Homo sapiens: one gene and its partners. The protein of the gene in region 4 interacts with the protein of the main gene of each other region in a pairwise test. Each region holds a gene or a part of one and is shown on either strand. Other genes may lie near its edges. The genes, in order: CLEC7A, ITM2C, SUSD3, OLFM4, QPCTL, CLSTN3 and SLC18A1.

The links.
Region 1: the proteins of OLFM4 (region 4) and CLEC7A interact in binary tests that used the Homo sapiens proteins (3 or more experiments, as listed by UniProt).
Region 2: the proteins of OLFM4 (region 4) and ITM2C interact in binary tests that used the Homo sapiens proteins (3 or more experiments, as listed by UniProt).
Region 3: the proteins of OLFM4 (region 4) and SUSD3 interact in binary tests that used the Homo sapiens proteins (3 or more experiments, as listed by UniProt).
Region 5: the proteins of OLFM4 (region 4) and QPCTL interact in binary tests that used the Homo sapiens proteins (3 or more experiments, as listed by UniProt).
Region 6: the proteins of OLFM4 (region 4) and CLSTN3 interact in binary tests that used the Homo sapiens proteins (3 or more experiments, as listed by UniProt).
Region 7: the proteins of OLFM4 (region 4) and SLC18A1 interact in binary tests that used the Homo sapiens proteins (3 or more experiments, as listed by UniProt).

What each region holds. Positions count from the first base shown.
Region 1 is NC_000012.12:10,123,700-10,127,199, forward strand, and holds part of CLEC7A (C-type lectin domain family 7 member A), read right to left. Parts: intron 3,010-3,500; coding exon 2,872-3,009; intron 1,750-2,871; coding exon 1,598-1,749; intron 1,475-1,597; coding exon of another isoform or gene 1,388-1,474; intron 1-1,387.
Region 2 is NC_000002.12:230,874,942-230,877,344, forward strand, and holds part of ITM2C (integral membrane protein 2C), read left to right. Parts: intron 1-678; coding exon 679-867; intron 868-1,915; coding exon 1,916-2,026; intron 2,027-2,403. UniProt on the Homo sapiens protein: Negative regulator of amyloid-beta peptide production. May inhibit the processing of APP by blocking its access to alpha- and beta-secretase.
Region 3 is NC_000009.12:93,082,701-93,085,633, forward strand, and holds the end of SUSD3 (sushi domain-containing protein 3), read left to right. Parts: intron 1-1,836; coding exon 1,837-2,047; 3' UTR 2,048-2,433; downstream 2,434-2,933. UniProt on the Homo sapiens protein: May play a role in breast tumorigenesis by promoting estrogen-dependent cell proliferation, cell-cell interactions and migration.
Region 4 is NC_000013.11:53,035,313-53,038,812, forward strand, and holds part of OLFM4 (olfactomedin-4 precursor), read left to right. Parts: intron 1-3,500. UniProt on the Homo sapiens protein: May promote proliferation of pancreatic cancer cells by favoring the transition from the S to G2/M phase. In myeloid leukemic cell lines, inhibits cell growth and induces cell differentiation and apoptosis.
Region 5 is NC_000019.10:45,695,666-45,699,165, reverse strand, and holds part of QPCTL (glutaminyl-peptide cyclotransferase-like protein), read right to left. Parts: coding exon 3,448-3,500; intron 624-3,447; coding exon of another isoform or gene 620-623; coding exon 467-619; intron 385-466; coding exon of another isoform or gene 379-384; exon of another isoform or gene 366-378; coding exon 266-365; intron 1-265. UniProt on the Homo sapiens protein: Responsible for the biosynthesis of pyroglutamyl peptides.
Region 6 is NC_000012.12:7,154,371-7,156,907, reverse strand, and holds part of CLSTN3 (calsyntenin-3 precursor), read right to left. Parts: intron 1-2,537. UniProt on the Homo sapiens protein: Postsynaptic adhesion molecule that binds to presynaptic neurexins to mediate both excitatory and inhibitory synapse formation.
Region 7 is NC_000008.11:20,176,637-20,180,136, reverse strand, and holds part of SLC18A1 (chromaffin granule amine transporter), read left to right. Parts: intron 1-652; coding exon 653-1,016; intron 1,017-1,643; coding exon 1,644-1,702; intron 1,703-3,500.

The DNA of each region.
Region 1 (3,500 bases), on a different chromosome or scaffold from region 4:
GCAGTGAGCCGAGATTGCGCCACTGCAGTCCGCAGTCCGGCCTGGGCGACAGAGCGAGACTCCGTCTCAAAAAAAAAAAAAAGAATGCATGCCTAACCTGACATCAACCTAGAGAGAAGTGCCAATTTTTGAATGTCATTGAATGTCTCAAAAGGCCTATCTTATTTATTTAAAGTAATTATCATTTAATTTTCCAAAAGAATAGATTTGTAATGTGAGGACTGTACTGCCTCCATTCAACCTATCTGACAAAATCCCAGATGACAGTCCCCCTAGGCAGTTTTCATGGATGATTAGCCATTGTCTTCTCCTCCAATTGAAGAAATAAATTGACGCTACTTTCGTTAAGAAGTACTTCTCAGAGTTAGGTAACAACTTAAAAATAATTTAGTCCAACTGTATATTTTATGAATATGTAATCTGAGGTTCAGTGAAGATATCTGAATTGTTTACAAATCTATAACAATTTATTTTCAATTATAGGCTGGCCTAAAAGTCAGATAGACTTGTAATCCAGTACTCTTTCTTTGCCATATATCTAGTTCCATTAACTTTAATATAAATTATTACTACTGGGTAAGACATTACAGAAACAAAAACAAAATAAGAATAGTGAAAGTAGGTGTAGAAGTTATAGACTGGTTTAGATTTATAACATAGAATTTTTCCTATTAACCCCTTATCTTACCTCATTGAAGCTCTACCCTTCATTCATGATGTGTTATAAGTGCCACTTTTTCTGAAAACTTCTTAGGAACACGGGGATCTCTTTAAACTCCTATAGAATTTATTGCTAATGCCAGATATTTAACTTTTAATAGCTGCTGAGTTGCTTTTTTTTTACTTAAAAGATTATATGTGTCCTGTGATAGCAGGGTTATGTTTTAACCCTCTTTGCCTTTCCCAGTATCTTGCAAAGAGTAAATAATTTCTAAACATATATTATCATTGTTGCCATTTTTCTTGATAATTATGATGACAAGGAGAAGAATTTTCTACTTTACTTCCACCATATTTAAAAATTGAAATACAAACTCACAAAAATGGGTAGTGTCCTGATTATTGTAGTCATGCATACATGGAGTATGTTTGAAAGGATTTGTTTTAAGGCGAAACACAGTTTTTTAAATTAGTTAAAAATAAAAGCATATACTATGCACTTTATGTGCTTAAGGCATGCTATGATTATAATTATAGAGATATTAAAAATGAATTTTGGCCAAGTATGGTGGCTTACACCTGTAATCCCAACACTGGGAGATCGAGGTAGGCAGATCGCTTGTGCCCAGGATTTTGAGACCAGCCCAGATGATATGGAGAAACCTCGTCTCTATGAAAAATACAAAAAAACATTAGACGAGTGTGGTGGTGCACCCTGTAGTCCTACCTACTCAGGAAGCTGAGGTGGGAGGATCACTTGAGCCTGGGATGTCGCGGCTTCACTGCACTCTAGCTTGGGCAACAGAGTGAGACTCTGCCTCAAAAAAAAAAAAAAAAAAAGACTTCATTTTAGGAAAAATTGTCATTACCTGGAATCTCCCTCTATCTTCCTTCAGGATACACACCACAGATAATCATAACAGAAGTCTACACTTACCAATTCATTTGAGCTGTCTATCTTTAGGAGATTAGAGCCCAGTTGCCAGCATTGTCTTTTACTTCCATCCCAGGAATTTAGTGACATGCTGAATAGATAACAGCTCTTCTCATATATAATCCAATTAGGAGGACAAGGGCTGGAAAGAACCCCTGGAAATAAAAGATTAGTACCATGAGGTTCATAGCATACCAATTCACTCTTTTAGTGTGAACACCATTCATCTTAAGGACACTTATGAAATAACCAATTAGTTGCCATTTTTATATTTCATTGTCAATTCGAACTACAGGGATATGATTTTACAGATGAGAATACATTAAAATCTTCCTATTCATTTAAAATTTAAAAACAAACTAGCTATAAATAGTATTTTAGGCAGCCAACCATCCTTTTTTTCTTCACTTGTCTTCTATTCCTTCTAATTCAGCTCAAAACTACCTTTCTCCTTAATAACTCCTTAAAATAAGTCCACTCACAATCAGTCATTGAGGTACACAGCAATTTCATATTGCTACTTATTTTATGATGTAAGATCTACTTCATAATGTGACTTTCCAAGTGAGAAAAGTATAGGCCAATTATTCATATTATACACTATCTCTGTTATATATTATTAGCTACTTAATAAAAATAGTGAGAAGGTATGGGTCCAGAGATGAAAAATTGAACTGAAAACATTAAGTCATAGTCAATTATGATGCAATTAGAAGTAAAAGTCAAGTGTGTATAGAATTGTAATTAAGTAAATGAAATTGTATGATTAAACAAATTTGATGAGTTTTCAGGGACATGTGTATTAGGTCTACCTCTTTTGTATATTTTTAATATAGCTTCCTTATTCTTGGCAACATTTTCCCTTCTTTCCTTTCTCCCTGTCATTCTTCCTTTCTAATGTCATATTTCCTATTCTAACTGTATCGCATTTAAAATGTCAATTCTGTAAGGGGAGAGAACACTTTTCTTTTATTTGTATCAAATTATATGATCTCCTGTAGATCTAAGCACATAGCCAGTGATAAATCAGTTACTGATTTTAAAAATTAATAAAGTCCAATTTAGAACTGTCCAGCCAACTGCATAGGGTACTTATAATTTCACCTTATTGTATATATGACAGGGATACATTACACTAAGGTAATACTAATATGTGTATTTGCCTTAAATTTACAATCATTGAATCTAAGTGTTTTTCTTTACACCCCTGCCCCAGGCTTCAGCACCAAGAATTAACCCTCTTGAGTCAAGATTCCGTCCTTTAACTATGCCCTTGCCTGTGGTTTTGACAGCTTTGGTAGGAGTCACACTGTCTTCTAAAGATGATTGTGTGGGTTGACTGTGGTTCTCTTTATTTCTTGATAGAAAGTAGCCATTCTCCAATGTGTTGCTTCCTGAATTGGATCTCCAAATAGCTTCACATACCAACAATAATAATAGTGACAGAAAAAATGTCATTCTGCTGTGTTTGAAAATTAAAATCCCAAAACCCAAATGTTATTGGAATAAAAGAATACATTATTGATTAATGATAAATAGATGATATATTGCTGTGGAGAGATAAAGACGATTGATAGAATAGATGAAAAGAAATACATAACTTTTATAAAGGAGGTATAGTAAAAAAAAAAAAAGAAAAGAAAAAAGAAGGTGGAGAAGAAGAAATAGAATGAGGGAGGCAGCAAGAGGCAAATGTCATAGAGTCAATTGGACCCATGACAGATTTGAAATAGCAACATCTTTCACCTTTCTTCTGTTATTTAAAAATGAGAGATCCTTGAGAAACTGCCCAGTACCTATAACATAGAACGCACTCAATAAACATTTGACTAATTAAGGAATGTCATGAAGACTCTCTGAAGGTGACTGACAACAGATTGCATGTGATATAAAATGTAAAAAAAAT
Region 2 (2,403 bases), on a different chromosome or scaffold from region 4:
GGATATCCAGGAAGGGCGATGGCACTTGTCCGAGGCTGGATGTGGAGGTAACCGTGATAGGGGCACAAGACTCTTAACAGTGTTGCCTCCAGCTCCACCTCCCCACCCGCCGTGTTAGGCCCCTCCAGGTCTGCAGGCCAGGACAGCAGGTGACAGGAAAGGCAGTCGTGCACAGGCGTAGGTGCCCAACTCTTAGGTTCGTCCTTGACCCCCTGCCAACCCCAGGCTCTTTCTCTGGTGTCTGCACCTCTGTGGAGGGCACGGAGGTGGCCAGGTCCTAGTCCTGCTGGGCCACCCCTTTTCCCAGTCACCGACTCAAGGACTTGGAGGCCAGAAGGGACCTTAGGGATCATCATGCTTTACTGATGGGGAAACTGAGGCCCAGAGAGGTCTGCCACCTAGAACCTGGCAGACCCAGCTCATCCTCCCTTCCGTTTGTGAAGCTGGGAAGCGCCTTGCCCAAGAATCAGCTCATCTCCTCACTGGCAGCCCCAGACCCTGACCTGATGCCCCACCGTCTCAGTTTCTCCATCTGCGAAATGGGTCTCACAGTCCCTGCTCTTCTTGCTTCCGCAGGCTTTTGGGGCATGTAGCGGACGGGTAGGCAAGAGGGGGCCTTACGGAGTGCGTGTATGACCAGCCTCTCTGACTGTCTGTCTGTCTCTCCGCCTTGCTCAGCTGGCCCGAGATAACTTCTTCCGCTGTGGTGTGCTGTATGAGGACTCCCTGTCCTCCCAGGTCCGGACTCAGATGGAGCTGGAAGAGGATGTGAAAATCTACCTCGACGAGAACTACGAGCGCATCAACGTGCCTGTGCCCCAGTTTGGCGGCGGTGACCCTGCAGACATCATCCATGACTTCCAGCGGGTGAGGCTGGCCAGGGCCTGGGGGTGGGGGGTGGGAGGGTGTCCCGGGGACTCAGGGCAAGGGGAGCAGGGATGAAAGGAGACTCCTCGGAGTACAGCAGGTGTCTACGGTTAGGCTTACCAGGGTCTTCAAGACACTGCTTTTCTCCTGTTAGCAACAATGGTTCTTGCTGAGTATGAAGCAGCCGAGGCTGATTTTCTCCTCAGCCTCCTGCCAGCTGCACGCTGGCTGTCATGGCAGGGCCAGTGCGTTGTATCGAGGGGTAGTACATTCACCATCGAGTGCATTGCGTGTACAGCTCAGCGGGTCTCTGCAGAGTGGGTCTCATGCGTATTCATGTAACCCCCATGGGTCCTGAGACAGGGCATCTCTCGCTGGGGTCCAGGCTGTCCCAGGAATGGCTGGCCCTCACAGGTTTCATAAATGCACAGCTGGGATGTTACCATGTTCCCCAAACCTCAGCTCTGTAAACATGAGAAGAAGCTTTATAACAACAGAGGCGTTTAGCAATCAGCTGCTATTTTCCTCTATCATGTGGCACCTTCTACAACAGGCTAAGAGAAGACCAGGAAAAGGGAGTGCCCGCCCAGGTATTGAGGAGTCTGGAGAGGACTCTGCTCCTGAAGGCCCAGGGTCCCAGGAAGGCATGGTGGGACTCCTGCCCCTGCTGGCCAAGCTGCTTTTTTTTTTGGAGACAGAGTCTCGCTCTGTCGCCCAGGCTGGAGTGCAGTGGCACGATCTCGGCTCACTGCAAGCTCCGCCTCCTGGGTTCACACCATTCTCCCGCCTCAGCCCCCCGAGTAGCTGGGACTACAGGTGCCCACCACCACGCCTGGCAAATTTTTTGTATTTTTAGTAGAGACGGGGTTTCACCATGTTAGTCAGGATGGTCTCGATCTCCTGACCTTTGATCCGCCCGCCTCAGCCTCCCAAAGTGCTGGGATTACAGGCATGAGCCACCGCGCCTGGCTGGCCAAAGCTTCTTGCAGCCCTGCCTGGGTCAGCTGTCACCTCCTGCAGAGACTGACCCAACCCCTTCTCCTGCCAGGGTCTGACTGCGTACCATGATATCTCCCTGGACAAGTGCTATGTCATCGAACTCAACACCACCATTGTGCTGCCCCCTCGCAACTTCTGGGAGCTCCTCATGAACGTGAAGGTGCGCAGGGGGTTGGGGGGATGTCTGCAGCATCCTGTCCCTCCCTTGCCCCCTGTCTCATGGAGGCTAGGTCTGAGGTACAGGAAGTTCCTGTGTCAGGGGTTGGGGGAGCAAGAGACATTGCTGGCACCTGGGCCCTGTACCCAGATTGGTCTCGCCTCTGCTATCCCCCTGCTTCCACATCTCCAGAGTCAATGCCCCGAGACCGGCTTCCTTAGTGTTCAAGGTTGTACCCTGGGTACGGACTCGTGCGCATGCCATTGCTCCTGGCAGCACAGGTGCAGGCACCGGGCACAGGCAGGAAGTGCCTGAGGACATCAGAAGGGCCAGCCCAGGGGCCTCTGGAGGAGGGAGGTGGGCTGGCATTTCGGGCGAGG
Region 3 (2,933 bases), on a different chromosome or scaffold from region 4:
CAGAGCTCCTCCATTGCCCCACCTGTGATCCCCACTCCCCATTACAGCACTGGGACCAGATCATCCTGTGTCATAACTGGGAAAGTGCCCATGGAATGGGGGAAGGAACAATTGCCTCTCAAGGCAACATGGTGTCCAGGATGATGGCAGCCACAGCTGCTGCCGCTGCCGCAGGGGCTTTGCTGGCCAGAGCATGATGCCGAGGGGCTCCCAGGGGTGCTGTTTGGGGCCACACTTCTGCCTGGTCCCAGCGCCACAGACCCTGCCTCTTACACTGCGGGAACTTGTGCAGTGTGTGGTCGGACGTGTGCGTCCCGTCCAAGAGTGGCCACAGATCTGTGTACAGGGCTGTGTTCACCCCCTCTGGGGAGTGAGAGAGCCAGGGCGGGAGGGAGGCACCCTGACAGGGCCGTGAGAGGCTGGAGGAGGCCGGCTTAGGGGCCACTCTGACAGTCAGCTCAAGAGGCAGGAAGTGGTGGTGAGGCTGAGGGGGATTGGGAGGGGGACCCTTAGGGCAGAGCCCCTTCCCGGAGCTCTCTCACACATGGAGACCTCGAGCACTCAGCCCAGCTTCATGGGGACTCAGAGAAGGCGGGTCCTGCCCAGGGCTACAAAGCCGATGGAGGCAGAGTTCCCTGAGTCCCCAGCCCTGGGCCCCGGGCTCCCAGGCAGGATCCTCGGGATATGCCTGTGCTGGGGCTGCCCACCCCTCAGGCAGGGCCCAGGCTGCCTCCATAGGTGGTAAATTGCCTTTAGCAAGGTGAGGTTTGCCTCTTGACCTTGTTTTTATTTCATAAGTACTTCTCAGCACTTGCAATGTGCCAGGCACTGTTCTGAACTCTTCCAAATATTAACTCTTTTCACCTAGGGGTGGGTACTACTTTTATCCCGTTTTCCAGGTGAAGAACTAGGCAGGTTAAGAAACTTGTGTAGACTCCCACACAACCAGTAAGTGAGGCTGGGTGGAGTCAGTCTGGCTCCTGCCTCCCCGAAGCTGCCTTTCGTCTCCACCAGTTATTGATGCTTTCACTTACTCATTGCATAAGCAGATCATTTCTTAATTCCTACTACTTACTAGAGTTTTTCTGAGAATTAGTTGTGGGTGGGAGCCGTGATCCAGGAAGGCTTCCTGGAAGAGGTGATGCCGGAAGTGAAAGGACTAAGAGAGCCTGCTTTGGGAGGGGAGAGAGACAGCCTCTGAGGGGAGGAGAGGACATGCAAAGGGCTGGAGGTGGGAGCCGCCAGGCAGCCCACATGGAGCAGAGGCCAGTGTGTGTGTGGAGGCTGGAGATGGGACAGGGCCAGGGTCTGGTCAGCCTGGGGAATGGCTTGGTTTGTATCTGGGGGAGTAGAGAGCCACAAGAGTACTGAGGGTGGAGCAGGTGGGTGATCCAGCTCCTGGCTACCAAAGAGGCAGGCCTGGCAGGAGGGAAGATGTCCTCCCCTTGACCTCCTGCTCCCCAGCATCCCTTCTCTGCCTGGGACATCCCAGGCCCTGGCCAGACAGCTGGGTTCCTGGTGGTTTCTGCACACTCTGAATGAGCCCCAGGAAGTCCCTTCCCACACCTTAGGGGGGCAAGTGTCTGACTCCTGGGCCACGCCCTGGTTGTGTAGATGAAGGACCCACTTGCCAACAGGGCCCGGCAGGGAGATGGAGTGACCTCTGTGCACCTTAGGGTGCAGGGCAGCTCCCAGCAGGAGGAAACGGGCTCCCCAGTGCTCAGGGCAGCAGTTGCCCCAGGCCCACTGGAGGGCCTGGGTACCTGGGAAGGTATGGAGTTGGGGATTAAACCCTATCCACACTCTTTTGCCAACTCATGCCTCCTCTCTCCACAGAGACCATGGTGAGAGCACCAGCAAGCTGGCCAGTGTGACCCGCAGCGTGGACAAGGACCCTGGGATCCCCAGAGCTCTAAGCCTCAGTGGCTCCTCCAGCTCACCCCAAGCCCAGGTGATGGTGCACATGGCAAACCCCAGACAGCCCCTGCCTGCCTCTGGGCTGGCCACAGGAATGCCACAACAGCCCGCAGCATATGCCCTAGGGTGACCACGCAGTGAGGCTGGTGCCCATGCTCCACACTGGGAGGCCAGGCTGACCCCACCAGCCAGTCAGCTACAACTCCACATCAACTCCACATGCGCCCAGCTCGAGACTGATGAGTGGAATCAGCTTCCAGGTGTAGGGACCCCTTGAGGGGCCGAGCTGACATCCAAGGCTGAGGACCCCAGTGGGGAGTGTTCTGTTCCGGCATATCCTGGCCGTAACGATTTTTATAGTTATGGACTACTTGAAACCACTACTGAGGGTAATTTACTAGCTGTGGCCTCCCACTAACTAGCATTCCTTTAAAGAGACTGGGAAATGTTTTAAGCAAATCTAGTTTTGTATAATAAAATAAGAAAATAGCAATAAACTTCTTTTCAGCAACTACAGAAAACTACCTCAGCATCTTCCTCCACAGGATGTACTGCTTCCAAGCAAGGACCCATGGAGGGTTCTGCATCTGTTGTCTGTAAAAGTGCAGTTGAGGGGTATGAAGTAAAACTAAATAATTATTTCTTTTTTTTTTGAGACAGAGTCTCACTCTGTCGCCCAGGTTGGAGTGCAGTGGTGCAATCTCTGCTCACTGCAAGCTCCGCTTCCAGGTTCAAGCGATTCTCCTGCCTCAGCCTCCTGAGTAGCTGGGACTACAGGTGCCCACCACCACGCCCACCTAATTTTTTGTATTTTTAGTAGAGATGGGGTTTCACCGTGTTAGCCAGGATGTCTCGATCTCCTGACCTTGTGATCCACCTGCTTCGGCCTCCCAAAGTGCAGGGATTACAGGCGTGAGCCACCGTGCCCAGCTAAATAATTATTTCTAATACTGAAAAATACAAAGGTAACAGTGGTTGGTTGATGTTAGAGTCAGCAGAGGAGACTTCCCTTTTTT
Region 4 (3,500 bases):
TAATCTTATTTTTTTTTGGTGTATAGTAGGTGTATGTATTAATGGGGTACATGAGATACCCTGAGACAGGCATGCAATGCGTAATAATCACATCATGGAAAATGGAGTGTCCATCCCCTCAAGCATTTATCTTTTGTGTTACAAACCATCCAATTAGACTCTTTTACTTATTTTAAAATGTACAATGAAATTATTATGGACTATAGTCACCCTGTTGTGCTGTTGAATACTAGGTCTTATTTATTCTTTCTAACTACTTTTATTTTTTACCCTTTAACTATCCCCACTTCCATCCTCACCCTCCATCTCTTTCTTGATGGTTATCTTCTATTGTCTCAGCAGGAACATTACATTTGATGTGTCCAATATTAGACAAAAATTGAAGGCTTCCCTGGGAATTTGAATCAAGACTAATAGGTTTCTCAGCCTTGGTAAAAACACTGACTTGAACTCTGATTACTGTTTTTTTCTTTAGCCAGAGGAAGTTATCTTAAAGGGTTTGCCTTTCTCTGGGCTGGCTGGAGCAATGTGACTTGGTGTTCTAGTTTTGACTCCTTCCACCTTTTCAGCCCAAGTTAAAAATCAATTAGAAAAGTTCCTATTTTCTGCACAGGTGAAGTCCAAGCTAGTCTATAATCACATTATGCATTATTTAATACAACTCCATTAATTTACAAGGAGCTCTGGCTTTACTGCAAGATTCAGAATAAGTTTTCCTAAGAAATTTGAGCTTTGCCACCTCAACATCCAACATAGTTATCCTTTAAAACAAAAATTATGATGAGGCTGAGACCCTACTTTCAGCCTGAATTGGTAGATAAATATTCTAAGTTTAAATGAGTGTCCAGGAAAATGTGTTTGACTACTCTAGAAACCTAGCTGCTTAAGAAATATAATGTCCTTGAATTAATCAGTGGAAAAGGCACAGCATTAAATTATAAATTCTAACCATTAATATTCATAGCCTTATTCCAGCATAATCAAGTACAGATAAGAAGTTATGCATAAAAACATAACAAGTAGAGGAAAATCCTAGGTAAAGATCTTTTCAGTTAGAGTCATTTGCTTTGAAATAGTGGAAACTACTGATTTACATGTTGTCTTTGCTGGCAGCAGTGTGAAAGGCAGTTTGAAACCTTATGTGCTCCAGGGAGAGTATGTGGCTTGCCAGGTTTGTGAATATGGGACATTTAATTCCAATACTGTACGGGGGGCTGGTAACATCTGCTTTGCTAATGACAGATAGGGAAGAAGTGCAGAATAGGTGGGAAAGTTTTAGTTCTGAATGTGTCGGTGGCTGCTCTGATCCCAAAAAAACTGTGATTGTGGCCTAAGAAAAAAGTTTATCTGCTAGCTAGGATTTATATAATCGATTTAGTGTGACAGGTGATAATAACAACAATAATAGTAGCAGTTTGTTTGTGCTTTTTCAAATGCTTCCAGTTCTATTCTCTCCTCTCAAGTAACCCTTTAAGGCAGATAGGCCAGGTGTTGTCTCTCCCATTTTAGAGACAGTAAAACTGCAGTTCATAAAGGTAAGGAGACTTGCCCAAGGTCATTCCTCTCTTGGCTGGTTAAGCCAGGTCAGAATTCGAGTCTTCAAAATCATCTCAACTCTCTTTCCTCTTGGCCATGCTGTTAGCATCCTCCAAGGTAGGCCCAGGAAGAGATGCAGTAGTAATGCCTTCAAATCCAAAGTTATCCCTTTAGCTGAGGGCTTTCGAATTTCCAAGTGAGTTATTACAGCTGTCCCTAGGTTGCCTTGAAAATTGTCATTTATCCGGGGGCCTGGGAGAATGCCCGTTTAGGACAGGCCAGTAGAAAAGGTTTTTGACTGCCTTACATTGATTCATTGTCTGTCAGTACACAGAGAAGACAGGGAGCTGCCTCTGCATAAGATGCTGAAAGCATTTTATACTTTTCTGTTGTTTACGGTATGTCCTTTTGTGACTATACTTAGGAAAGGGATGGCACAAAAGGCAGCTCAGGATTTTCTCTTTCTCTGGAGGCTTATGGTCTTTGGCATGAGTTATTTAATATGACACATTTGCTAGTAGATCCTCATGCACGGGAAGGTTGAGGCAGCCTAGGAGACATTAAGGCAACCCATAAAGAAATAACATTGATTGAGCCGTATTTGTATAGTGAAATATAATAAATTAAAAGGTCAGATTGGAAAATGCTGAAATTACTGTTTCTCTATTAATTTCTATAATTCATAGGGCCTCCATTAACTAGGCACTTAACGTACATTATCTCTAGTCTTTATGATAATCTTGTAAGCTCAGTATCATTACCCCCAGTTTACAGGAAACTAAGGGTTAAAGAAATTAAGTGATTTGCCCACTAAGTACTGAAGTTAGATTTGAGTCTAGTTGGGTCTAGCTCCAAAGTACTTTATATGTCTTTACAATCACTCCAGGCTCAATGAACCCTGTTACGTTTACTTTGAAACATATATTGAAAATAGTAGTATGTTGCAAAGTAAACGTACTTATTTCAAATAGTCTGGCCATAGTTATAATCACAGGTTTTGAGAGACTGGCAGAAACATGAACCAGATTAATTCTTTAGCTTGCTAGCACTACACCCTTATTTATTACAAGACCACATTAATTATAAGGAACAATAACAGGCACCCTCAAATCAACGCTCACACAAATTTTATTCCTCATCAATGATATAGTATGTGCATAACAAGCAAAATAAAATGGAAGCTGTGAATGTTAGGCTGGTGGCTTAAAGGCTCAACTAAAACATAGATGAGCCATCTAGTGCTCAGACTTGTCATGATGAGGAGCTTCGAGATAAAGATGTTGACACAGGACGTGTCTCCTCAAGGCTAGACCCATATTCTTGATAGAATGTTTAGCAGCGTCCCTGGTCTTTAGATGCCAATAGCACTCGCCCACCCCCCAGTTATGAGAACCAGGACAAAATCACCACCACTACCGCCCTCCCTCCATTTAGAACCACTTTTCTAGATCAAAATACAGCCATAGGTCAGCTAAAGACAGGGACATGTTCTGATAAATGCATCGTTAGGTGATTTTAACATTGGTGAACGTCATTGTATACTTACACAAACCTAGAGGGTGTAGCCAACTACACACTCAGGCTATATGATATAGCCTATTGCCAGGCTACAAACCTGTACAGCCTGTGACTGTACTGAATAATGTAGGCAATTATAATACAATGGTAAGTTTTTGTGTGTGCATATATATCTAAACATAGAAAAGGTACAGTAAAAATATGATATTTATAATCTCATGGGACCACTGTCATATATGCAGTCTGTCATAGACAAAAATGTTATGCAGCAAATGACTGTATTTTCCAGAAGAAGAAAAAAATGCAGAAAGTGCCCCAAGTGCCAGATGTGGGACTGGAGGCTCCCAGGCAGGCTGGGCTGCCTCTCCCAAGACTGCACCTCCCAGGAGGAGCTGACATGTGGTCAGCATTGTCCACGCATTCCCAAAGCTACAGATTCATATATG
Region 5 (3,500 bases), on a different chromosome or scaffold from region 4:
GCTACTCGGGAGGCTGAGGCAGGAGAATGGCTTGAACCTGGGAGGTGGAGGTTGCAGTGAGCCAAGATCATGCCACTGCACTCCAGTCTCAGTGACAGAGCGAGACTCCATCTCAAAAAAAAAAAAAAAAAAAAGATGGGGTCTCCCTATGTGGCCCAGACTGGTGGATGAGCCTTTAGAGTGTAGGTGCCTGTCCTACCCCAGCCCACCGCCCTGTACCCCATACCCCAGGTGGGCTGGGGCCCACCTCCGCATTCACCCTTACCAATGCTCCTCAGCCGATGGAACCAGCGGACCGTGCGAGGGAAGTGGCTGTAGAAGGTGGGATTGGGGGCTCCCAGGAGATCAAGAAGCATAAAGAGCTCCTAAGGAGAAAGGCTAGGACTGGAGGGGCCCGTGCAGGATGACGCCAGCCCTGCTTAACCTGCTCCCTCCCTCGCCAGAAGCCAGGGGACCCTGGTCTTACAATAGCCTGGATCCTGGTGGGGCCGGGGCTGTGAGGTATAGACTCCATGAGCTGGGCCAGGTGCCGGGAACCGTAAAGGGAGTCCTTGGGTCCCCACTCCTTCAGCGCCTCTTCACCATCCAAGAAGAGCAGTTGCAGGGTCACCGGGGCTGCCTGTGGGAGCAGCAGGGGGGTGGCCAGAGCCAGCTCAGGACTAGCCCTCAGCCTCAACATACCCACACTTCTTGCCCGCTTGCATGCTTAAGAGAACACATAAGGTGTCCTCACTCATAGAACGTGGTAGCCAAGAGCACAGATTCCGAGTCAGTTGTCTGGGATCAAATCCGTACTTGGCTGCTTCATAACAAAGCAGGCATGGGGAAGTTACTAACTTCTGGAAGGATCAGTTTCTTCATCTATAAATGGGGTTAATAAGAGGTTTTTTGTTTTTTTTTTGTTTTTTGTTTTTTTTAGAATAAATCTTGCTCTGTCACCCAGGCTGGAGTGGAATGATGCAATCTTGACTCACTGCAACCTCCACCCCCTACCTCCCAGGTTCAAGAGATTCTCCTGCCTCAGCCTCCCATACAGCTGTGACCACAGGTTCCCGCTATCATGCCTGGCTAATTTTTGTATTTTTAGTAGAGACAAGCTTTCACCATGTTGGCCAGGCTGGTCTCGAACTCCTGACCTCAAATGATCCACCTACCTCAGCCTCCCAAAGTGCTGGGATTACAGATGTGAGCCACCGCGCCCGGCAATAACAGTTCTTTTCAAAGGGTAAGGTTTGAATCCAGGTCTTAGAACAGTGCCTGGCATATAACTAAATAAGGGTTATCTCTGATTATTATTCCTCAAGCTCAGTTTGGTGAACCAGATAGATCCACAAATGAATAATTATACAAACAGTGAAATGCAGTTGAGACAAATGCTTCTAAGAACTATAGAGTCCTGAGAGGGCATAGGAAGGAGGCTGGGGGATGACCTGGCCTGGAGAGGGCGTTGGGTCTTTTGGGAAGGGATGTTTGCCATGAGAATGGGTAGGAACTGGCCTGGCAAAATGGAGCAGGAGGAAGAGTATTCCCAGCCAAGGGAGCAACACAGGGCAAGGCTATGGCCAGGGAAGGGGTCCCAGAGGTTTGAGAGGGGTACGGAAGGTTTAGCAAGGGCCAAGGAGTGTGGGCTTTGTTATAGGGACACTGGGGAGGCACAGAGAGGGGTTAAGCAGGGCAGGAGCATGATTAAATCTGTGTTTTTCTTTTCTTTTCTTTTTTTTCTTTCTTTTTTTTTTTTTTGAGACGGAGTCTCGCTGTATCGCCCAGGCTGGCGTACAGTGGCGCGATCTCGGCTCACTGCAAACTCTGCCTCCCGAGTTCACGCCATTCTCCTGCCTCAGCCTCCCAAGTAGCTGGGACTACAGGCGCCCGCCACCACGCCCAGCTAACTTTTTGTATTTTTAGTAGAGACGGGGTTTCACTGTGTTAGCCAGGATGGTCTCAATCTCCTGACCTCACGATCCACCTGCCTTGGCCTCCCAAAGTGCTGGGATTACAGGTGTGAGCCACCGCACCTGGCCTGTGTTTTTCTTTTCTGTTTGTTTTGAGACAGAATCTCGCTCTGTCATCCAGGCTGGAGTGCAGTGGTGCGATCTCGGCTCACTGCAACCTCCGCCTCTCAGTTTCAAGTGATCCTCCTGTCTCAACCTCCCAAGTAGTAGGATTACAGGTATGTACCACCATACCCAGCTAATTTTTGTATTTTTAGTAGAGATGAGGTTTCCCTGTTGGACAAGCTGGGCTCGAACTTCTGACCTCAAATGATCTGCCTGCCTCGGCCTCCCAAAGTGCTGGGATTACAGGTGCGAGTTACCACGCCCGGCCGGGAAGGCCTCTTTGAAGGGGTGACATTGGAGTGGACACCTGAGTGAAGAGTGGGAGCCAGCCAGGAAGATATCTATGAAAAGCATATTCTTTTTTTTTTTTTTAAGAGACAAGGTCTCTGTCACCCAGGCTAGAATACAGTGGCACGATCATGGCTCACTGCAGTCTCAAACTCCTAGACTCAAGCCATCCTCCCCTCTCAGCCTCCCAAGTAGCATGCCACTACTCCCAGATAATTTTTTTTTTTTTTTGAGATGGAGTCTCGCTCTGTTGCCCAGGCTGGAGTGCAGTGGTGCAACTTTGGCTCACTGCAACCTCCGCCTCCCGGGTTCAAGCAATTCTCTGCTTCAGCCTCCCGAGTAGCTGGGGTTACAGGTGTGCACCACCAAGCCTGGCTAATTTTTGTGTTTTTGGTAGAGATGGGGTTTCATCATGTTGGCCAGGCTGGTCTTGAACTCCTGACCTTGTGATCCACCCACCTCAACCTCCCAAAGTGCTGGGATTCCAAGTGTGAGCCACGGAGCCTGGCCAGAAAAGCACATTCTATCCAAAGCAAACAGCAAGTGCAGATGCCCTGAGGTGGGAGCAAGCTCTGCGGGTTTGAGGAACCCAGAGGAGGTGGGGGTGGCTACAGCAGAGTGAGCAAGAGGTGAGGGGTGGGAGATGAGGCTGGAGAGGTAACAGGGCACAGCTCGTGGGCCAATATAAGGACTCTGGATTATGGCTGGAATGAGGCGGGAGCCCTGGGAGGGTTTGGGGGAGAGGAAAGAGAATCTGACATCTAGAAGGTAAAAAGATCCCTGTGATGACCAGGCGCGGTGGCTCACGCCTGTAATCCCAGCACTTTGAGAGGCCGAGGTGGGCAGATCACCTGAGGTTGGGAGGAGAATTGCTTGAACCCAGTAGGCAGAGGTTGCGGGGAGCCAAGATCTCGCCATGTGCACTCCATCCTGGGGAACAAGAGCGAAACTCCGTCTCAAAAAAAAAAAAAAGATCCCTGTGGCTCTGTGCGTGGAGTAGAGTGGGAAGACGAGAGGGATGACAAATGTCCAGGCAAGGGAGGGTGGGGGCTTGGGAAAAGGTGGAGGTAGCCCACTACCCTCCCCGACTCCTGCTCCTCACCTGTTTTTTGGCCCTGCTCAGCTCCAGGTCAAGTGCTTGGGCCAGCTCCAGCA
Region 6 (2,537 bases), on a different chromosome or scaffold from region 4:
CACCTCCCTTCTCCTGGTGGGCTTGGGGCTCCGGGACGTCTGGGGTTCCTGCTTCCCCAACATCTCCCCCTGAGGCATACCTGCCTCCCCCGTGGCTCTCCCATGCTTCTGGCCCTGCAGCCCCACTTTGATGCCCAGGCTCAGAGGGGCATGGACCTTCAAGGGCACTGAGACACAGAACGGTGCGTTCACTCTCACACGGACCTTAGAGCTGATGGCGGCAAAGCAGATGTGCATGCACAGGTACATGCTCAGGAAGACCGTGTGGGCACACAGCTGCACAAAGGTTGCCACGCCCCACACCCGAGCCAGGCCTTTGCCAGCCTGCATGCTGGCCCACACCAGCCACCTGGCCGCCTGCTCACACTGCGGGAGTAAAGGAACGCGTCTGGGGGTCTCCAGCAAGGCACGGTAGAGCCATATGTGCAGCATCACCCAGCTCCCCACCAGCTGGGCAGACCAGGCAACCCCCTGAAGGAAGACATAGACACTACAGACGTGGGCCGTGAGGGCCACAGAGCGAGCCGCCATGAGCACAGCCCTGCCTGCCTCCTGCACACACACACACAGCTCTCGAAGAAGCACAAGGAAGAAAAGCAGGAAAGCCCGCAGCCCCAGGGACAGCAGGTGGAGGCAGAGACCCCACACACGCACCTCCAGGCCCAGGGCCCTTACGGGCAGCTGGGTCACTACTCCCCACATGGGTGCACACCCCTGCCCACCATGCATACACAGCAGCTCCTCCCTGGGCGGTCCCGTTGCTGAGGGACTATTCCATGTATGTGTGCCCCAAACACACACAGAGACCAGCAGTCACACAAGCAAGCCCCTAGAAAAATACACACATCGCATTCCAGCCCCGTCCGCAAATTACCTACAGCCTGAGACTCATGTGTCAACAGACAGAGCAGAGCGTAGGGAAGCGCATGGCCCAGGAGCTCCTCACACTCACACCCACACCCTGCTGCAGCGCCCCTCTCCCCAGCAGCCAGCACACTCAGCTGCCACGCACTCCAGGGCCAACTAGGTGTGTGGAGAATGCCCTGCCTGGGCAGGCCACACACCTCCCTGAGGCCACCCTGATGGCTGTCTGCCAAGTTGGTCCCCATCCTGACCCACAGCCCACTTGAGGCCACCAGCCAATTAGAACGGACTCTGCTGGGGCACACTCCCTCGACACTGGTTCCAAGGTGAAGACAGGACTGGCTGGATCAGTATTTCTCAACTTCCTGGGAACGGGGGATAAGGGAGGAGGGGACAGAGCTGTCTCTCCTGCCCATCTGCAGGAAATAGTGTCTCTCAGGTCTCCACGTCAACAGACCAGAGCCAGGGGCAGTGCCTTCACTGGCAGATGGGCCCAGTGGCTAAGCCCAGGCTCCAGAAGGGGTGGTGACCCCACCCTCAGAGTGGAGGCCAAAGCAGGTGAACTTCCTCTAAGCACACAACGATGACGAGCTAAAGCTGGTTTGCGCCCTAATCAATGCAGTGTCCCTCCGAGCTCCTGGCCTAATGAAGGAAATGACAAGTTGATTGCCAGGACAATAAGAAATGACCACAGGAAAGACAAAATGCAGACACTCTATCTACAAGCAAACAAGTCTGGTTAATTAGTTTAAGATGAGTCAGGAGCCCGGGGAGATGGGAGGATTTTTAAATCAGCTACAGATAAAAATCAAGAATTTAAGAAGTGCGTTCAGCTTTTCTTGCTACATGAGATCTGAGCAGTTAATTCTGGCCTTGAATGACCTCCAGAGCCAACATTAAGGGGTGACTTAGCAAATGGTCCATGGGATTGCGAGGACAGTGGAAAGCCCTGTCCATGGCCCCACACGGTGCTCTCTTTGCAAAGAGCCTTGGGAGAGATTTCTTTCTGCCCCCCGCACTCCCAGGGCTTTTCATGAAATAGCGTTTGGCTCCTATCACGGCTCTCAGAACTGCTCAGGTTTCCTTTTGCTTTAGCTTTGAAGAAGCTCAGGGTCAAAATTCTGGCCCGTGGTAGCAACTGCATAGCATCTCATAGTACGCATGTTATGAGCTGACTTTATTCCCTGGCTTCATTGGATCCTTATTTCATCATTACCTGTTCCTCCTTACTTCCTCATTCATTTTCTTTTTGTCCTATTGCTTTGTAACTCTTTCTGCAAAGCTTCAGATACTTGTAGGAAACAAAAGAGGAAAATTATTCCCAAACTTTTAAAGATTACATGGGATTTTTAAAAACCACTGACACGTGGCTCCCACCCCCTAGACATTCTAGGGTATAATTTAGGTGCCGAGAGTTTTTAAAGCTCCCCAGGTGATTCTGGCAGTCATCAAAATTTGATATGAGTAGATACATAATACCCTCATCATCCGGCTTGCTCTTCTCAACCAACCTTATTCTCTCTAACCATAAACACTCTTAACCACCTATCTACCCCCGGTTCTCAAATTCCCATTCTCTCTCACACCCATCCAAAAATCCCTTTTACAGTTCAGGTCCAAATGCAAACTCTACATGTGCCACAAAATCTCCCCTGACTGTTCCAGTTTACCCT
Region 7 (3,500 bases), on a different chromosome or scaffold from region 4:
CACACACACACACACACACACACACACAATTATAATCTTAAATCTTAAACATCGTGGTACATCGTGTTTTCTTTATAAAAGAGAAAAAGAAGTTCAGAAGTGTTAAGTGACTTGCCCAAGGCCTCTCCACTAGCAGGTGCCAGAGTTGGGATTCAAACCCTGTCCAGGGGTCCCAGAGCTGAGGCTCCTCTGACCACCCTGCCCTTCCTCCTCCCATCCCCTCCTGTGGCCAGGTCTGTGTGAGAGCTGGACATGTCTGTGAAATGTCGTGGTAGCTCAGTGTGTGTTGGTTTGGGGGGTTACATGTCAATCTAAGTGAGTAGGAGAGTTAGCCAATGTGGAAACCATGAACAATGAGGACTAACTGTATAAGGTCAGAATTTAGCTACTTTAGCTAATAGGATAACTTGGGCAGGCACAGTCTTTTAGTAGGTTTTAACCATGCCACTCCAGATACCAGCCTTGGGCATAAGGCTGAACCTCATCATAGTCCCCTGATCCTAGTAGTGGTAAGATGACATCTGTCCTTAGCCCCCATCACCTGTCCTCCTTGACTTTCAGTAGAATTGACATCTGTCCTTAGCCCCTTGAGTTTCAGTGGTAAGATGACATCGGTCCTTAGCCCCCATCACCTGTCCTCTTTGACTTTCAGTGCCAATTGTGCCCACCTTCCTATATGACATGGAGTTCAAAGAAGTCAACTCTTCTCTGCACCTCGGCCATGCCGGAAGTTCCCCACATGCCCTCGCCTCTCCTGCCTTTTCCACCATCTTCTCCTTCTTCAACAACAACACCGTGGCTGTTGAAGAAAGCGTACCTAGTGGAATAGCATGGATGAATGACACTGCCAGCACCATCCCACCTCCAGCCACTGAAGCCATCTCAGCTCATAAAAACAACTGCTTGCAAGGCACAGGTTTCTTGGAGGAAGAGATTACCCGGGTCGGGGTTCTGTTTGCTTCAAAGGCTGTGATGCAACTTCTGGTCAACCCATTCGTGGGCCCTCTCACCAACAGGTATCTCACTGGGTGCAGTGCCCCGCAGGGTACACAGGAGTAGGAGGACTAGAAAAGTATAGAAAGGGGGTTGGAAGGGAAAAAGAAGAAATACTCACTTGTATGATTCCTCAGGGGAGTCAGCTATTCGGAAAGCTCGTTACTCAAAGAATAACATGTTACTGATGAAATGTTATGGGATCAGATTTTCTTAGTGATATATTGAGTATTGAGTACCAAGAAGAGAACCATGAACAGCAGTGTGCTGTGATGTTCTATCAGTGACCTGGAGCATGGCTTGAATGGGAAAAGGGTATGAATGGGACAGTCCTGTTGTAATCTAGAGCACTGGCTTCCCAGGAGTTGTATTGACGATTATTCTGATATTTTCAAGAGATATACACTCCACCTAGGCTATCATTTCTGGAAATGAGAATTTTGGCCCTGATCTATGGTCATATCTGCATGTTTGTTTGTTTGCTCATACTCATCCACATGCCCTATTTCATCTCCACACTACATTCAGAGGCATGTTTTACCATACACCCAAATAGCTGCATTTCTGCTCCCACTTACATTTAAAAATGTAGTCCATGTATGTGAGTGCCTGTTGGAATTGTATCTTTTTTTTTTTCAATTCCCTTTTAGGATTGGATATCATATCCCCATGTTTGCTGGCTTTGTTATCATGTTTCTCTCCACAGTTAGTAAGTAATTTGCTTCCTCTTTTCTTCCCTTCACTGATTACCTTTGATTTTATCAAGTGAATGCGGTGTAGATAGCAGGGTAACCTAGAATGTAATTAGGCATCTGACTAAGCAGACTGGAATATTGGTTTAAATGCTCTGCTGTTTTTGGTATGTGGACTAGAACAGTAGTGACAATTCAGTCTAGTTGGAATTGGTCTATTCTGCTATAGAAGAACAGATATTTTATTCACTTCACTTCAGCTGGACATAATGAGAGCTGTTTGAATATGTATGCTACGGGGTGTGTGTGTGTGTGTGTGTGTGTGTGTGTTATATGCATCAGTAATCCCTTGAGCAAGTTTAATACAAACTTTCCATCTATGAGAAGCAATGATATTATTTTGTTATGCCATGGAAAAGGGCAACTCACAAAAAAATGGAAATTGGACAATAACATCTGGAAAATTCCAAAAAGCCTACTGCTTTTCAGTTAAGGGCTTTAAAGGTTAAGCTTAGAAAAGTAAATTTGCTAAAGAAACAAGAAAGAGAAAGACAAATACTCTATCCAGGATCAGCTAAATGTTTCTAATAAAATGGAGATGGGATAAACACAGTACATGAGAAAAGTAAGTCTGGAAATTGATGCTGAGAAGTAAAGGAAGAAGGAATGAAAAGGGTTAGCGTTAGCAGGTTAAGGCAGGGGAAGGCAGCCTGTGGATCCAGCCTTGGTTCCCGATGGCCCTGCTGAACCTCTGCTCTCCAACAACACACCTCCTTCTCCCTCGCGTTTTTCTTTTCTTTTCTTTTCTTTTTAATTATACTTTAAGTTCTAGGGTACACGTGCACAACGTGCAGGTTTGTTACGTATGTATACATGTGCCATGTTGGAGTACTGCACCCATTAACTCATCATTTACATTAGGTATATCTCCTAATGCTATCCCTCCCCTCTCCCCCGACTCCATGACAGGCCCCGGTGTGTGAAGTTCCCCTTCCGGTGTCCATGTGTTCTCTGTTCAATTCCCACCTATGAGTGAGAACATGCCTCTCATTTTTCTTATTACCTTTCTGTTCCTTGTCTACTTTCTGTCTTCCTCTTCCTCAACTTTTCTTCTTTCCCAGCACAGAACTTGATTCCTAGCAACCCAATATTTAACAAGAATTTGTTGCATTCTGGGCTGGAAGGCTGCAAACTGCAAGAACTTGAGATGTGAGGTTGTCTCTGAGAACTACGTCTTGTTTGTGAAATTTTAGTGGACTTGAAGAAAATGAAGAAATTCAAATTAGCACTGTTCATGGAACTTCTAGCAGTTCAGCCTAAGTTAGACAGCAAATTTAAAAATAATAAGATGCCAGGTGCCCTATTTCATCAAATGAGGCTTAAGATTTATTCCAAACAACTTTATGCAGTGCATGTATAATGCCCAGATGGCCATAGTCACATAAAGAATGAAAAGACATGATTCCAGCTATCAGAAGTGTATATGATGGTTGCCTGGGGAGACATGAGACACACACTGAGAAGTAAGACAATGCGGTGTGCTAGTGGATCTGAGACGTTTTAGCATGATATCCTTGCCTGATTCTCTGCCAAGAATTCATGTGTTAAAAGCTTTACTTTTAAAGTAAACTGTATATGTTAAGTAATTATTGTTTAACTTATACCAAACTATATATGTTAAATAATTATTATTTCCATAGGATAGCTGTGTTGCTATATGGAGTTGGCCTAATTCTAACCAAAAGAAAATACATTTGATGTTTAGGGTATCCTTGTCCAATGTTCTAAAAAATACTTAAAAGAGATTGTTGATGC